2 linked regions of the Homo sapiens genome follow. The protein of the gene in region 2 purifies or fractionates together with the protein of the main gene of each other region. This does not show direct contact. Each region holds a gene or a part of one and is shown on either strand. Other genes may lie near its edges.

Region 1 (3,657 bases), on a different chromosome or scaffold from region 2:
CTTAGTGGCAAAATAGGACACAGAACACTGTCTTGGCTTTAGAAAGCCTAAGAATCAATTGCCAAAGCTTAAGAGAAATTCTTAGAAAATAATGGCATAAACTAAAAAGAGAGATCTTAAAAACTAGCAAAAATAGCATGTGCATGTCCAAAGGAGAAAATAAACAGTTGATTAAATTTCTTCCACCAATAAACCTCCCCAGAGACAGAGAAATTAAATTTTCAACAGTGCTGCTGGCTTGGCAGGAGCTGTGGGGGGTTGGGTGGGGCAGGGAGCTCTTAGGTTTTCCCTTCTGGAAAAGACTAGGAACCAAAATGCCAAAGCACCATGAGCAGGGGCAGCTCACCTGAAGCCAAACCCTAGCACATGCAGATACAGTTAGGAAAGCAGCTGCCAGACTGAGACAGCAAAGGTCCAAACAATTGCTGAGTTTTGGGCAGCAATTAGGAGAGAGAAGAGAATAAGAGCATCATGGAACATAGAAGAAAAGCAATCTGACAATTTGAGATGTTGAGTGTCTTTTAATGTTCAATGTGTTCAATGTTTCTCAGCTCCCAGTGGAAAATTCTTAAGATAGATATTACCAGACTTCTCTATCTGTCATGGCAACTTTATAAATCCAGTGATGTAAATCCTGGGAATGGTCCCATTTAGTCACTCTTTCCAGCTGCTGTCACCACACACTGAAAGGGAGCTTCGTCCTGAGTCAGACTCCATGGATGAAACATTCAGCATCACATGTAACCTATTGTTCTTCACAACACCCTACTCCACTACCTGCTAAGAGATGTTCTACATGGTACACAAACCCTGCACTCGAGTCTCAGGCCCACAGCTGTCTCCTCAGACCTACCTCCGCGGGGTGCAGTCATCATGCGGGGGAATGATGACAACCTTCACCGTGACAGATGTTCTCAGGAGGTCGATCATCTGCTCATGGCTCAGAGTGGCTACCGCCACCTTGCAGATCTCCACCAGGCGACTGCCCTGCCTCAGCCCTGCCTGCCAGGCATAACCGTAGGGCTCCACATCCGCCACAATGCCCTCATAGTTGACATGGAAGCCAAGCTGTCCTAGCCCATTTCTTCGCAGAGTCATCTCCACCGATTCACAGCCTTTTGAAACAAACTAGACAAGGAAATAAAAGATACTGTGGTTTAAAGCAATAGGGTATTAAGTGGTGGACATGGAACTGGAAAATCATTGCAAGCAGGGTTAGTTCTGAATACCTTATTGCCAGCTGAAGAGCAGTCTGGTTATTTCCTCTTCACTAATCTCCTATTCATTAGGCCAAAAGGAATATACTTGTTGCATCCAAAAAGCTCAACGGCTTCCCTGAAGTTACAAGGAAACCTCTACCAGAGACCTACAGGGAGCTGGCAGTAAATAGAAACCATATACTGCTACTCATTTAGCCTTTGTAAAATTCAAGGCAGCAGATACTCAAGCAATTCTTTTCAACACCACCACCAGATGACTGGACTGCAGCACCAGGGAACAGGTCACATGCAAATGGGTTTTGAACATGAACGCACACACACACACACACACACACACACACACACACACACACAGAGTAAATGTGTCTTCCCCAATTTGTTCTACTTTTCCGAAACATCCATGGAAAACACAAGCATGAGATAAACTCTGTTTGCTTCACACATCAAGGGAGTTTTCAGAGGAGCTAATAACAGAGCACAAGGTTCAGTAACTTGGCTCTAGTCTGTATTGAAAACTTTATGAAAGAGAAACTGCATGTAAGGAAGAGGAAGGAGAGACTCACCTGCAACCTTTTGACAATCTCTTTGATCTCCTCAATGTTAATAAAACTACCCACTGAAACACATTCTCCTCGTTCATAGAAGATTTTGAGGCTGGTGTCAGTTGAAGTCCACCCTATCACATCTCTACAGGAACAATTGAAGACCACGCTCTTTGTTTCCTGTTCAATGAGCACAATGAACTCATTGGAGATCCCTAAAAGGCAGTCTAGTTCCATGGCCTTGTTGTAGTCTTCAGCCCGGACTGCCCATACAATGGCCCCCATGCTGCTGAGCTCGGCTCCTGGATATGGCTTAGACTTTTCCTTCTTCTTGGAAGCCAGAGAGATGAACGGAAACTTGCCAGAAGGGTCGATAGGGGTGTTGGTGACATTCTTTTCTGCCAGATCTTTCAGGTATTCCTGGCGGGTCCGAGTTGCCATGGCCCGAAACTTCTCCGATTTATGAGCAGCATTTTCTGCATTAATCACTTTCGCCAAAAGGAAGTCCCTGAACACATTTGACTTAGGGAAAGTGACCCCTTTAGGAATGGGAGGCCCAAAGGAAGGCACATCTCTGGACCTGGTAACAGCCACACTGAGAGACAAAGATCAAAGAGAGCCACGTCAGTATTTCTCAGTCTCACAACATCAGAATAAAATATACTTTCTCAAAGACAAAGATGTACCTCAGATACAAAATAGCTGCTTATTTTTCCATGAGAAACAACACACATTTCTGCTTAATACGAGTATATTTTTTCATTCTACCGCATTTAGGATTTACACAACATAATTTTTTTTCTAGGCCAAAAACAAACCTCCCAAAATCCCAAAAGCTAACACTATTAACTTTTTTTTTACCAGACAGGAAACTGACCAAAACTCCATGAAAAAAAATAGGTTTACTGTAATATTCTGTGTAAGACATTTTAAATACCTACTAACTGTTTTCAAGGGAGGTTACTGTAACCACATCATCTTTCAGAACAAGCATACATTCTGTGAGAACACAAATGTGTTCTCCATTTTAGATATGATGGCTATAAGCAGACAGCTTACATTGAAAATATCAGAAGATGCATGCCATAAAAGAAATGAATTAAATTTCAATAAAACTTAACTAGTATTTGTTGGCCTAAGTGTGAGGCATTATGCAACCAGATTAAAAGCATAATTTTAAAATGAAAATTGGAATCTGAGTAATAGTATGAGAATCTTTATGTAATAGCAACAACGCTTTAAAATCATATTTTTAAACTGAGCTATTCCTTGGTCCTTTTGGTATTTTATTCTGATAATCTATTTCTAAGAAAAATATTTTCCTTCTCCCATTCCTTTAAGCAAGATTGATATAAGAAAGCCTGTTCCAGTCATTTCTTCTGACTATATATTCCTAAAATTGGGCCTAAGAAAAGGATCATATGAACATTTGTAATAACTTATTATTTTTAACCTCAAAAGGAAAAAAAGTAAGTTTCTCCTAAAACAACAAAGGAAGTTGTTGATATAGAAATAGAGAGGTTGAGTGTTTTATATCATTTCCCAAGATTTTAGTAAAGTTTGACATGACTGGAAATGATTCTAACACATCGAAGATCGCTCTTTCCAAATTAAAAGTGAACAAATTATGCAATTATACTTAGTATTAGGGAAACAATAAAAAAATCGGTTTCTTCTGAACTCTTGGAATAGAAATGGCATCATCAGAGAGTATGCATCTTTCAAATAAAATTGAAGAGCTCTGTTTCACTTTTTTTTCTTTAGGAAGGGTTTGCTTTAAGATATTCAGCTTTGTTTTTCAAGAAATAGTTATTTCTTGTGAAAATAAGAAAAATAAAAATCAGCAACCTCAGGAGGCAAATTATATTTCTGGTGGAATGGAAAAGCTACATGCT
Region 2 (2,706 bases):
TACCTTTACTACTGAAAACAAAACTATAGGGCATCATACTAATTGAAAATCAATAGTAATGGGTTCCATCCATTAGCTTTTTAAATGAATAGATCTGGTATTGATTTCCTTCCTGTTTTTTTGAGGCACATTCCTTTACAACCAGTGTTTAAACCACCACGTAATCATCTTCTGCAAACAAGGGGTGCCAGTGTTGCCTAACAGAAGATAATCTTTAATAAAGCAAATCCTCTGCTTCAAAGGTTTTTGAAATAATTGGATCCCTTTTTGAAAAGGAAGATGAGTTTAACTGTGTCCAGGTGGAGTAATAGTACTGCTGTTGCATGAATAGATGATACAAAGCAAGTGATGAGGTTGGTATGACTTCTTTAGTGACCTTTTAGGGTTTGCTTTTATTTTCCTCTCTTTTTTGTATTATTTCTTTCAAACATAGTAAATATATGATTTTACAGCCAAAGTGGTATTCTGTTTTTTCTAAGCTTTGAGATACAAATATTGCTATTTAATCACATTGATGATGAATTACTTTCCATGTGAACCTTCTCAAAATGATTTAAGTACCTTTGATTTTGCTCCCCTAAAAATGGCTTGTGTCTAAAGTGACATTTTTTTCCCTATTTGGAGGGTTCTAATGAAAGAGATCCAGGCATAAAAACTCTTTTGCTTATTGAAAGCAATTTGATTACACCTATGTTTCAGGTTATAGTGGGGAGAAAATTTGGTCAGTGCCTTATTATTTGAAGAGCAATTTTAGGGCATCAAGTATGACAATAATCATGTGCCCTCTTGCTCCTCTTATTTCAGGAGTGTGTGCTATCCCTCTCTCCACCAGCTTAATCTTTCTCACCCCAAGTCTAACAAAGTCTTTACAGAAACCTCTGTAGGTGATTGTTGCAGTCTTCCTTGGTTTTTGAGTCTTTTTAAACAAGCTCCTACCCTGCTTCTATCCTTTTAGAGTAGGAGATTAAAAATAAACCCACCCCAGTCAACCTTTAGATAAGCACTCTTAAAAACAAATTTGAAGAGCACTCTTCAGCCAAGTTCATTTTTATTTTGTTGTTGATGTTTTGAGCATACATTTAATTGTAAGGCCTTTTGGAAAAGCCCTAAAAGAATAAGATACAACCAGAAATATTTGAGTTTTGTTAAATGTACTGAAATCTTGTAATGAAAATCCCTTTGGCCAGAAATGAGATTTATTTCCATTTATTTTTACATTTAAGTAACACTCAAAACAAACAAGTAGTCACTTAACCTGCCAGTTATTATTTTCTTGAAAATATACAAGAAAGTAAAAATATCTCTAATATATAAGTTAAAGGAAAGTTAAGAGACTAAGCTAGTTTTTTCAGTGAAAGCAAAGTTGGAAATATTTTGCTTCTCTCAGATTATTGGAAGACCTAGAGCTACTGGATGTTAACCTGAATCAAGATGTTCTTTTCACATTTTTTTAAAGGGCTAGTATGTTCCAGAGTAGGCAAGTAGTCATTCAAGCCAAATGAAAGAGTTAACTGGTCCTTGAGGAGTGTTAGCAAAATTTAAATTTTGACCCTGGCCATTTGTACTACAGAAGTGATTATGGGATTAAAAGAATACATAATTACAGTGTTTTGGGATTGGGCTCTTTTTTTTCTTAATAGAAAAGCAGAAACTTCATAAATAATAGCTGTGCTTTAGATACCAGATAACAAATATTGTTTCCCCTGAAGATATGACCTACTAGAACTACTCACATATATAGTCCAATAATTACTGACTTAATAGGTATGGTAAAATAGCTGATAATAAGTCAGACTCTCAAGAGTTTCTGTACCTTGATTATTGACAAATTCATTGTTTTACATCCTACTAAAGAACATGTGTGTGGGGAGGGGGTGGGGAACTGGTTCACAACATAATCTGAAGGAGATCAAACATCTGTAAGGACAGGTACCCAGTGATGATAATATATCTGAAAACACAAGCCATTTTTATTCTTTATCCCAATTAACTTGAGGTACTCTAATGATGAAGCACTCGATTGCACTATGACCTCCTTGAGTGATGTGCAGCTTGGTTCCTCTCTCACTTTTTGTTTCTTTTTAATATGCAAATGTGAGTGTGCGATCTTCAGTGTGTCTGCATAAGCTAACTTAAGATGAATTTAAGTACAGTTTTCTGAAATATTTCTATTGAAATAAATTACTTAAAATTATAGATTGGGTGAGGATGTTTTTGTTACTGTATTTGCATTTTTATCATGAACTTTTAAGGTGCAAATAAACTTTAAGTTGATTTTTTTCCCCTTTCTAAGGTAGTCAACAAGGCTATTGTTGGTGCAGGGAAAGCTCTGAAAAAACTTTAGTCACTCTTCTCTAGCCCAAGACAAGAATGTGCCACCTCGCATGTGGACAAATGGGGTTGTGGGGAATAGAGAGTAAGGGCATAACATTTCCAACTACATCTCCCACTCTGAGTATGTGATACGATAGGAGTAGTCCCCAAAGAGGCTCTCTTTGCTAATACATAACATTTTTTTCTTTTTACCATTTCTGAAAACAATCCATATTCGAGACCATGGAGCTTTAAATTGGAAGAAGTACAGAAATACCTGTGTGGAGTCTCCTGTAGGCTATTGTCTGGGTGTTGGTTATGCTTGAGAATTCCACGTTAGCTTAGCCTCTGCATGGTTTAGGAACCCCCAGCCAGGAAAAGCCCAATATTTTG

Evidence for each region. Proteins that work in one complex are often made in the same cells at the same time.
Region 1: the proteins of RALGPS2 (region 2) and SIPA1L1 purify together in Homo sapiens (affinity purification with mass spectrometry, with the first as the bait; one large-scale study listed by BioGRID). This does not show direct contact.

The regions. Positions count from the first base shown.
Region 1 is NC_000014.9:71,669,819-71,673,475, reverse strand, and holds part of SIPA1L1 (signal-induced proliferation-associated 1-like protein 1), read right to left. Parts: intron 2,358-3,657; coding exon 1,784-2,357; intron 1,129-1,783; coding exon 854-1,128; intron 1-853.
Region 2 is NC_000001.11:178,919,647-178,922,352, forward strand, and holds the end of RALGPS2 (ras-specific guanine nucleotide-releasing factor RalGPS2), read left to right. Parts: 3' UTR 1-2,194; downstream 2,195-2,706. UniProt on the Homo sapiens protein: Guanine nucleotide exchange factor for the small GTPase RALA. May be involved in cytoskeletal organization. May also be involved in the stimulation of transcription in a Ras-independent fashion.